3 linked regions of the Homo sapiens genome follow. The protein of the gene in region 2 purifies or fractionates together with the protein of the main gene of each other region. This does not show direct contact. Each region holds a gene or a part of one and is shown on either strand. Other genes may lie near its edges. The genes, in order: BBS4, TRAFD1 and ACAD11.

Region 1 (3,659 bases), on a different chromosome or scaffold from region 2:
CTATGCTGATGGGCCTGCTGAGTATAGACTCAGGAAAGCTGCCCCACTGCTACAGCCTTTTGGGAATGACTGAATGACTTTCTCTGTGCCATGTTTTCAGGCCATCTTGGCAGCAGGCAGCATGATGCAGACCCACGGGGACTTTGATGTTGCCCTCACCAAATACAGAGTTGTGGCTTGTGCTGTTCCAGAAAGTCCTCCACTCTGGAATAACATTGGAATGTGTTTCTTTGGCAAGAAGAAATATGTGGCGGTGAGTGTCCCCTCATGTTCTTTGTTTGTATTTCTACATGTGGTTATTGGGTCTGTTTAGCTTGCCCTTCTCATTGAGTGCCCCTTCTCTCTCATAGGCCATCAGCTGCCTGAAACGAGCCAACTACTTGGCACCCTTTGATTGGAAGATTCTGTATAATTTGGGCCTTGTCCATTTGACCATGCAGCAGTATGCATCAGCTTTTCATTTTCTCAGTGCGGCCATCAACTTCCAGCCAAAGATGGGGGAGCTCTACATGCTCTTGGCAGGTAAGAAACATTTATGTGGAAAACTCTCTCTGCCATCTGTAATGAGGGAAAAATGGATTAGAATCATAGAAGATCAGTGGCTGTCTCATAGGAGCCATTCCCTTAGAGATCCTGTAGGAATCTGGATTACTGTCCTGGAGCTTGAAGAAATAGAAAAAGATGACAAAGGAACTTGGTTGTTTCTAACTTGGGGGAGTTTGACTCAGAGACCAACAGGTTAAATAAAGATCATCCCTAGTTCACCTTTTACCAGTTTTTTCCTCTTGCCTTGACAATTCATTTATGTATATATTGAGTCCAACTAAGTTCCAGACAGCAAGTGTTAAGAGCTTGGGTTTTAGGTAGGGTCCTGCCTCTACTACTTATTATATGTACCTAGGGCTGATGTGAGGATTGCATGATTAAGCTCTCAATTAATAATACTGGTTTTGTTGAAATACTGATTTTTGAAAACTGTTGGTTTTACTGTGGTTATATAATTGGTCTATTATTATCAATATTGTTGTTACTATAATTGGCCCCTAGGTGATACTTCCAAGTCAAGCTACCTTATGTTGAAACCCTTATCTCTTCTGAGCATGTTATATAGAATGCCATTCTCTTCCTGAAACTCCATTTTATGCCATGCAAATACTAAAATTGATCATAAAAATAAGTTAAAATTAATCAAACACTTTAACAATTATGCACAACCATTTTAAAGTACTGACTAGTCTTTCTAGGAATTTTTTTCTCCATATACATTTACTTACTAAATGTAAGACCCAAAGCAGATTTCCATGTCCTCATTTGGCAGTCGTCTTCCAGTGGCTTTTTGTTCATTACTGTGGGTTCTTATTTAAAAGAGAAAGCTTGCAAAAGCAATTGTGGTTATTTGAGGGTTGCCTGAATACAAAGATAACTTTAAAAAAAAAACATAGGTTTTATTATTATTCAGATATGGTATGGGCAACAGATCAGAAGACATCTGCCACTGGAAAGATAGTCTGTTACAATTCCTGAGAAGGAGGGCATGCTACACCGTGCAGGGCCACATGGGGAAGCACCAGGTCAATCAGGAGGTAGAGGGAGCAAGGGGTAAATGTGGGCACAATTCTTTATTGTAGTTTTCATGGGTAGAAATGCCCTCCCCGGGGCAAGACCGGGAAAGCAGGTTAACCAGGTTGGGGATTGGCCAGTTTGAATAATTTCAGTGGGCTCTGGGCTATAGGGCTGTCTCTAGGTGTCTGGTACCTGACCCTCGGGTGACTAGGACTAGGGAATATTGGCCCAGTGTCAGGGCCCAGTAAAGGAGGCAGTTAAGAATATGAACACTGGGTTGGTCGGTCTGCATACAGAAGGTACTCTTGTAGGGGTTATATCTAGGAATTAGCTGACTGTGGGAGGGACAGTCTCCCCAGGGTCAGTAAGGCCCCAGATGTCAAAACATCAGAATAAAAAGGCTAAAGTGGGGTGTGATGGTACATACCTGTAGTGCTGGCTACTTGGGAGGCTAAGGCAGGAAGTTTGCTTAAGCCCAGGAGTTGGGAGTACAGCCTGGGCAACACAGTGAGACTCCATTCCTCTCTCTTTTTTTAAAAATTTTATTTTAGGTTCAGGGGTACATGTGCATCCTGTTACACAGGCACGTGTGTCATGGGGATTAGTTGTACAGATTATTTCATCACCCAGGTACTAAGCCTAGTACCCAATAGTTATTTTTTTCTGGCCCTCCCCCTCCTCCAGTAAGCTCCAGTGTCTGTTTCCCTCTGTGTCTCCATGTGTTCTCATCATTTAGCTCTTATAGTGAGAACATGCAGGATTTGGTTTTCTATCCTTTATTAATTTGCTAAGGATGGTGGCCTCCAGCTCCATCTATGTTGCTGCAAAGGACACGATCTTGTTCTTTTGTATGGCTGTGTCGTATTCCATGGTGTACATTTACATTTTGTTTATCCAGTCTACCATTGATGGGCATTTAGGTTGATTTCACATCTTTGCTATTGTGAATAGTGCTGCATTGAACACACACATGCATGTGTCTTTATGGCAGAACGATTTACATTCCTTTGGGCATATACCCAGTAATGGGATTGCTGGGTCGAAGGGTAGTTGTATTTTTAGCTCTTTGGGGAATTGCCAGATTGCTTTCCACAATGGTTGAACTAATTTACACTCCCATCAACAGTGTATAAGCATTCCCTTTTCTCTGCAGCCTCACCAGGATGTTATATTTTGAGTTTTTAATAATAGCCATTTTGACTGGTGTGAGATGGTTATCTCACTGTGGTTTCAATTTGCATTTCTCTAATCAGTGATAGAGTTTTTCATATGCTTGTTGGCTGCATACATGACTTCTTTTGAAGTGTCTGTTTATGTCCTTTGCCCATTTTAATGGGATTGTATTCTTCTTGTAAATTTGCTTAAGTTCCTTATAGATCCTGGATATTAGACCTGCATGGTTTGCAAATATTTTCTCCCATTTTGTACATTGTCTGTTTACTGTGTTGATAGTTTCTTTAGATAGCTGGGTTCTAATGGAACACAGAAATGTAAACAGCCATAATGTAAGAGATAACAGCGATGCTAACTTTACAAAGTAGAGATGGCATTCAAACTGGATCCTGAACAACAAGCTAAAATGGAATAGCACAGAATGGCTGAGGAGCCACTGTGAAGAAAGGCATGCAGCCATGAAACTGCAGTGTCCCTTGCTGTTAGTGGGGGTTAGTGTTAGAGAATATGATGGGAGATGAATCAGGAAAGATATTCTGGGGTCAGATTATGGAGGTCATGCGTACAGTGCAAGGACTTTATCTTAGAGGCCATGTTTGTCCAGCTGTCTTCCTAGATCTCCTCTTAGGTGCCTGGTAGGAGTGAGTGCATAGCTGGTGGGGAGGTGGAATGGGCAGGGCTTCCAGAGCAGCTGTTTTTGTTTTATATATTAGGTGTCAAGGAAATACTGATTTTAAAAAGTGGGGGGAGTGTTTTACTGCTAAATGAAAGTGTAAAGATCATGGTTATAGATGTGGGGGGCCAGTGAGGATTCCTAAGTAGGATGGTAATGTGGTCAGATTTGTAAGGCAGTGAGATACCTGGCAGCGCTGTGGAAGGTGGAATGGAGGCAGGTGGGGACTTTGACACTGGGGAATAAATGG
Region 2 (2,432 bases):
ACTAAGCAGGAAACAGCTAATGGGCCCACCTCCTGTCTGCCTCCCAGCCGACCCATTAACAATATGACAGCTACCTATAACCAGCTATCGAGATCAACATCAGGCCCCAGACCTGGGTGCCAGCCCAGCTCTCCTTGTGTGCCGAAGCTCAGCAACTCAGACAGCCAGGACATCCAGGGGCGGAATCGAGACAGCCAGAATGGGGCCATAGCCCCTGGGCACGTTTCAGTGATTCGCCCTCCTCAAAATCTCTACCCAGAAAACATTGTGCCCTCTTTCTCCCCTGGGCCTTCAGGGAGATACGGAGCTAGGTAAGAATCAGTAGCCCAGGAATGGGGCTTGGGAGTAGCTGAAGCGAACATGGGCAAAGGCCTGGTTACCCTTGCCAGGCCTGGGGTAAGACTGAGGTACTTGCATGGTAAGGGGAGGAGTATGGATTTTCCCTGTATTGTCACCTGACTCCAAAAAAATTATTTTGTGGCCTATGGGTTTTTTGGGGTTTGTCTGCTAGCATAGGACTGCTTCCTGTTCCCTCTGAGTTTGTTGACCTTTGCTCAGGGACACTTCAGGAGCTAGTTTCTAATTGTTTTCTTTCAGTGGTAGGAGTGAAGGTGGCAGGAATTCCCGGGTCACCCCTGCAGCTGCCAACTACCGCAGCAGAACTGCAAAGGTAAGGTGGGCTCCAGCCCATGATGCTCAGTGGGGGACTCAGACATGGTGGGGCTTGTGTGGCTCCTGAAGTTGTAGAAGTTGTTGGGACCAGGCTGGTTGTGGTTCAAAGATTGTTCCTTTGGCTTTTGAGAAGGAGGTTTCTAAGGAAGCGGGACATTTTCGGGGATCCAGGGGAGGAGTAATGCTTTTTCACTTTTTATGTAAAGCTTCGTTTGTGTTGTGTTGTTCACCAGGCAAAGCCTTCCAAGCAACAGGGAGCTGGGGATGCAGAAGAGGAAGAGGAGGAGTAATGGTGTCTCCAGAGACTTTACATCGGTTCCTGTCTTCTGTGCACAGCAGCACTTGCCGCTGTGCAGGCCCACCTCTTTGGCTCTTTGGGTGGGAGAGTTTTTCCAGATTTTAGATTTTTCTAGGTTATGGCCATTTTGTGTCTTTTGAGGTTGTGCTGTGGGGGTTTGGGTTTGAGGGAAGGGAGCAGGGTGGCGGTTGAGGAACGCTTCAGCCTTAGCTGCTACCTTTCGGCAGCAGTGAAATACAAGCTGCAGCCTCGGCTGCCAGGGCTCCCTTTTGACTTATTGTCGCCACTGCCCCTTGGTGCTGTGTGGTCCCAGTGGAAGGAGGGGAAGATTTTGGAAACCTGGTAGCCACCAGTAAGGTGATTCTCTGCCCTGTTGGGGCCTAAATTTGGGGGCTTTTGGGCAACCTCTCCGTGTACTGCGTCTGTCCACACTCGATTGGGCCCCAGGTGTGTATGAGGCGCTCTGGTAAGGTGCTCAGGCCAGTTGCAATGTCTGTCAGTAACGAGGCTTTTGATGTGTTGAGCTGGAGGTGAGTGGACCGGGGGCTGTGTTTTAAGCTGCTTCCTTGGCATTTGGCATCACTGCCTTCTGTTCCCGGGGGAGCATGGATCTTTTGTCCTCACTGCTTTCTAATGGGGAGGGCTGAGGGCTCCCTGTCCCCACAGCAGGTATGTTGGGCTCTGCCCCAGCCCCACACTTGCTCTGAAAACCAAGTGTCAGAGCCCCTTCCCCTTGTTTTTATTTTACTGTTATAATAATTATTAACTTCCTTGTAATAGAAATAAAGTTTGTACTTGGAGTTCAGCTCAGTCTTGTGGTTCCTTCTCCTGTGTGCTTTAGAGACTGCAGGGAGGGCAGGGTAGGCTGGAGTCAGCCCTGGGGTTGGAGGAGGTGAGCAGGGCTGGGCTTTCTCCGGCACTCCAGTAACCCTCGCAGCTCCACCATGAGTCCCTTCTTGGAGTACACAGACATTGAACGTGTAGTGTTTTAAATTGGACTTCTGAGAAAACTGACAGGCTTGCTGCAGCTCCGGTGATGACTGGGGCTAGAAGGGGTGCCTCTGACTGAATAGAGAAAAGCAGATTCTTCAAAAGCCTTCATCCTGAGAGGAGTTGAGCCCTAGCAGGATTAGCTGTTACCCCTCAGTGCCTCCGTCTGCATAGGACCACTGAGCACCGTAGGTCATTTTGAGTTCCTTTGTTCTTCCAACAACCTGTTGGGGTGGGAAAGGTGGGAGGAACTGCCCTATTTCATAGATGGAACACTAGACACGGGAACCATGCGGCCAGTTCTTTGCAGAGGCAGGTCTCTGAAAAGAATTATCCTGAGAGAAAAAAGCTTCGTCTGCATGCACTCGCGCACACACACAAACGATACATAGTAGGGTTAGATCTTTTAGTGTATGTCAGTTATATCTCAGTAAAACAAAATCACCTTAGCTCAGTGAGACTTTCATGTGTT
Region 3 (3,659 bases), on a different chromosome or scaffold from region 2:
AGCACATATAGTTCATGTATGAGTTTCTAGCAAAGAACCTGGCACACAACAGATGGCCAATATGTATTTATTTGATGAATATGTTCAGAGCTTGGCATATATAGCAAGGCAATCAAAACTTTGCCATTGTTACTGTGGAAAAAAATTGATCACTCCTTTCTCTATGACTTTATAAGAGCTTTTATTGTGGTTATATTATACTATAAATTTATAATATTATAAGTATTATAAATTACTATACTAGCTAGATTTGTGAAACTACTGAAGAGGATGGATGCATTTTTCTCTTACATCATTCTATTTGTTATCTATGCTTTTAACATCCAAAGTAAAGATGAGGCACTTACTTATGCTATAAATGATTACTTTTCTTTTTTAATACAATTGGGAAACTTCTCTGGAGTTACTTTTCAGAATATCTGAACCATTTTTGGGGTAAAAACACAAAGCTATAAAACAACAGCCAGTGAGAAAAGCTGATGGCTCATCAAATTGCATAAATTAGTGCAAATTAATTAGCAATAGCTAATTAGAGTCCTGTTGATGCCTGTTTGTGTTGAGAGTTATTAAAAGCTCAACATAACTTTTAGTGGTTGATCTGGACATTTACTAGTTCGTCTTACTGCTGCTAGGGAACTTATTAGTAAAATTATTTTTGATAGTTTTTCTGAAACCTCAGCTCAACAGAAAGCTTTTAGTTTTTTAAATTATCTTCTTTATAAAGAGATTCATTTTATGTATACTTTTTACACCATTGAATTTTATTAATATGTATGTGTATTGGCATTCGAAACAAACAAAAAATACATACAATCCAACAGAACAAACAGTAGATGAAGAAGGCAGGGAAGAAAATAATAGAATTTGTAATGAAAAGATGAAGCTAGGAGTAAGGTTATTACACATAATTGAATGTGATAGGACATGCATAGTTGTTAGTGTGGGTAGTAAAATTTGCTTTGAATTTTATAGCGGGTAAAATAAAGTGTGAAGCATGGTCAGTCACAATCTTTATAGTGTATGCAGGTCAAAAACAAACCAGCTGCTCAAGAGGGACAAATTTTCTTGGCAATGAGGCTAAAGAAAAATATCACCCATCAATCTGCATACAGGTGATATTGTGTAGCGGACGAAAATGTCTTCAACAATATAAAGAGAACTTTGAGGGGCATGGTGTAATTCCTAGAAAGCAGGCTATGCTGGAAAATGACTGAAAGGACAAAGATGAGTTAGGTAGAAGACAAGACCACATGCTGAGAGTGGGAACCGAGATGGGACAAGAAATGTGAGAGTTTGAGAAGAAGGGAAAAGATTTAGAAAAGCCATTTTTTAAATGTCACAGGTTTTACTAAGAGATGAAGTTACAGCCTAGATAAAATCATGTGGCATAAAAATGTCCCAGATCCAATTAACCTTACTTCACGACTTTATTCTGCAGCAAAAATATGAGGATTCAAGTTTAGGGCTAGAAACTGGTTAAAGTCAAGGGGTGATGGACATCCCCTGTAGGGTTATTAGAAAAAATAAAAAGTAAAATAATAATAATAATGATGATATAAAGTCAGGGTGGGAAGATTCTAGAATAATAAGTAACCTAAGGTCAGGACACTTTATAATTCTTACATTACTTGCATACATCTATAGTCAAAAAATTATTAATGAAATTGATACTAAAGGTAGTTTTTGAGATGACTGATTATGACCATGTGGCTTATGTAGGATAAGAAGTCAAGTGAAGTCATGAAGGGCTTATGGATTCTAAATTAACAGCAATCAAATTTGCAGTGTCTCAGGGAAGATGCAGAGAAATAAAAGAACAGAAGGTAAAGAGGGTGAGGTCAAAAATAAGGGGTTTCAATTTCTAGATCACTGAAGTTGACAAGTTCCAATGGATGTTTCTAATTAAATATATTTTTCAAGTTGAAATGACAATATGCAGATTTTACATTAAACTCCAAGATCTTAAACATTTCTCTACTGGTAAAATTTATATTTGGAAAATCAACATTTTCCAGGAAAACTGGATTTCTTTTCAACATTGCAGTGAGCCTATTGTGCTACTGAAATACTTGCCCAAACATGCTTTAAATACTTTGTAAATAAGTAACAGAAAATAATTTCGTTTTGCCATATCCTGTAGTTTCCTTTACTGGCTTACTCCACACATTCCTGGAAGGTTTGTCATTTAAAATTGTTTATTCTTCTTTCTTAATTGTTGTGTTTTCTGATGACAAAAATTAAACATGCTGTTGTTTTAAAAATAAAAACCAAAAAACATCAAACCCTAAACATTACAGAAATGTACAATTATGTCTCCTATAATTCTATCCCCTACAACCACTGTTTAGGTTTTCGTACATATTATGAAGCATTTACTTATACCCTAATATTTTTCTGAAGAAGCTTGACAAGTAGTCTAAGAAAAGTCAGAGAGAAAAATGAAGGGGAAAAAATGGAAAAATGAGGGTACCTGAAATAAACTGAGCATCATTGATGTGCCAGGTACCAGCTAGTTGCTCCACATTGACTGTTTCATTTTAGCTGCCCAGCAACTCAGAATTTTTTTTTTCAATTTTAAAAGGTACACAATGTCAATTTCCTGGCTTTGATAATGTACCATAGTTGTATAATATCCATTTTGCAGAATTTGGATGATGGATACACAGGACTTCTCTGTACTATAACACTGTTACAACTTTTTTGGGGACTCTAATTATTTCAAAACAAAAAGTTAAAATAAAAATAGAGGCACAGAGAGAGATTGAATAACATGCTTTAAGTTCACACTGCTAGGGAATGAAAGTTAAGCATAAATTTATGAGATGGAAATAGTTGCTAGTGAATAATTAACTAAAATTAATCCCTTCAACATAGATTCATCAGAATCATATAAGCACCTGCAATATAAAGATGAATAAGATACAGTCATTGTTTTAAAGGAACTCCAAGTCTAGTGGGTTCTAATTTGTTATCTACTATAGAGACTCAATATTATGTAGACTCGACTAAAATATTAATTAAATGACACAGATCAAATACAGGCCAGATCCTGCTATGTTTTCAGGCATATGCTTTTATAATTATCTAGATTATAAATTAGCATATTTAATTTTTCTAATCTCAGGGTAGATAATTAACAAGGTTAGAATTCAGAATTCATCAGTGCCACTAGCTCTTCCTGCCCTAAAACATCTTAGCATTCTAAGAAACTAATGAACCCAGAAAATCCTCCTCTCAGAAGCAGGATTCATTCCTACTATACTGTAATCCTAGGCCTCATTGTAGGTGCTCAGTGGAGGATTACAGCTTTCATTTGTTTATACTCTTTATAAAGAATACAGTATGCACATTTACATTGAGCAAGGTTATATTAATCTCATGTAATTCTTTTGAAGCCTCAAGAAGCTTTTGGAATTCTCTATTCTCAGAGTTTATAATAAACAAATAATAAATTCTTCATGAGATAGGGCTAAAAACCCCAAAGAAGTATAAATGAACCAGAAAAAACAGCAAGAACATGGATAAGCTAAATATTGTAACTAGTAGATGAAAACTTATTTGAAGAAAACAGCATCATGCATGTAAAATTCCCAAATCCTTTTAAGCAGTAAACCAGATACCACTTGGGATTAGAACCAGTCTCAAAGGTAGGCAGCTAA

The links.
Region 1: the proteins of TRAFD1 (region 2) and BBS4 purify together in Homo sapiens (affinity purification with mass spectrometry; one large-scale study listed by BioGRID and IntAct). This does not show direct contact.
Region 3: the proteins of TRAFD1 (region 2) and ACAD11 purify together in Homo sapiens (affinity purification with mass spectrometry; 2 studies listed by BioGRID and IntAct, with this or other methods). This does not show direct contact.

What each region holds. Positions count from the first base shown.
Region 1 is NC_000015.10:72,731,205-72,734,863, forward strand, and holds part of BBS4 (BBSome complex member BBS4), read left to right. Parts: intron 1-100; coding exon 101-253; intron 254-350; coding exon 351-522; intron 523-3,659.
Region 2 is NC_000012.12:112,151,830-112,154,261, forward strand, and holds the end of TRAFD1 (TRAF-type zinc finger domain-containing protein 1), read left to right. Parts: coding exon 1-311; intron 312-597; coding exon 598-670; intron 671-905; coding exon 906-962; 3' UTR 963-1,775; downstream 1,776-2,432. UniProt on the Homo sapiens protein: Negative feedback regulator that controls excessive innate immune responses. Regulates both Toll-like receptor 4 (TLR4) and DDX58/RIG1-like helicases (RLH) pathways.
Region 3 is NC_000003.12:132,635,655-132,639,313, forward strand, and holds part of ACAD11 (acyl-CoA dehydrogenase family member 11), read right to left. Parts: intron 1-3,659. UniProt on the Homo sapiens protein: Acyl-CoA dehydrogenase, that exhibits maximal activity towards saturated C22-CoA.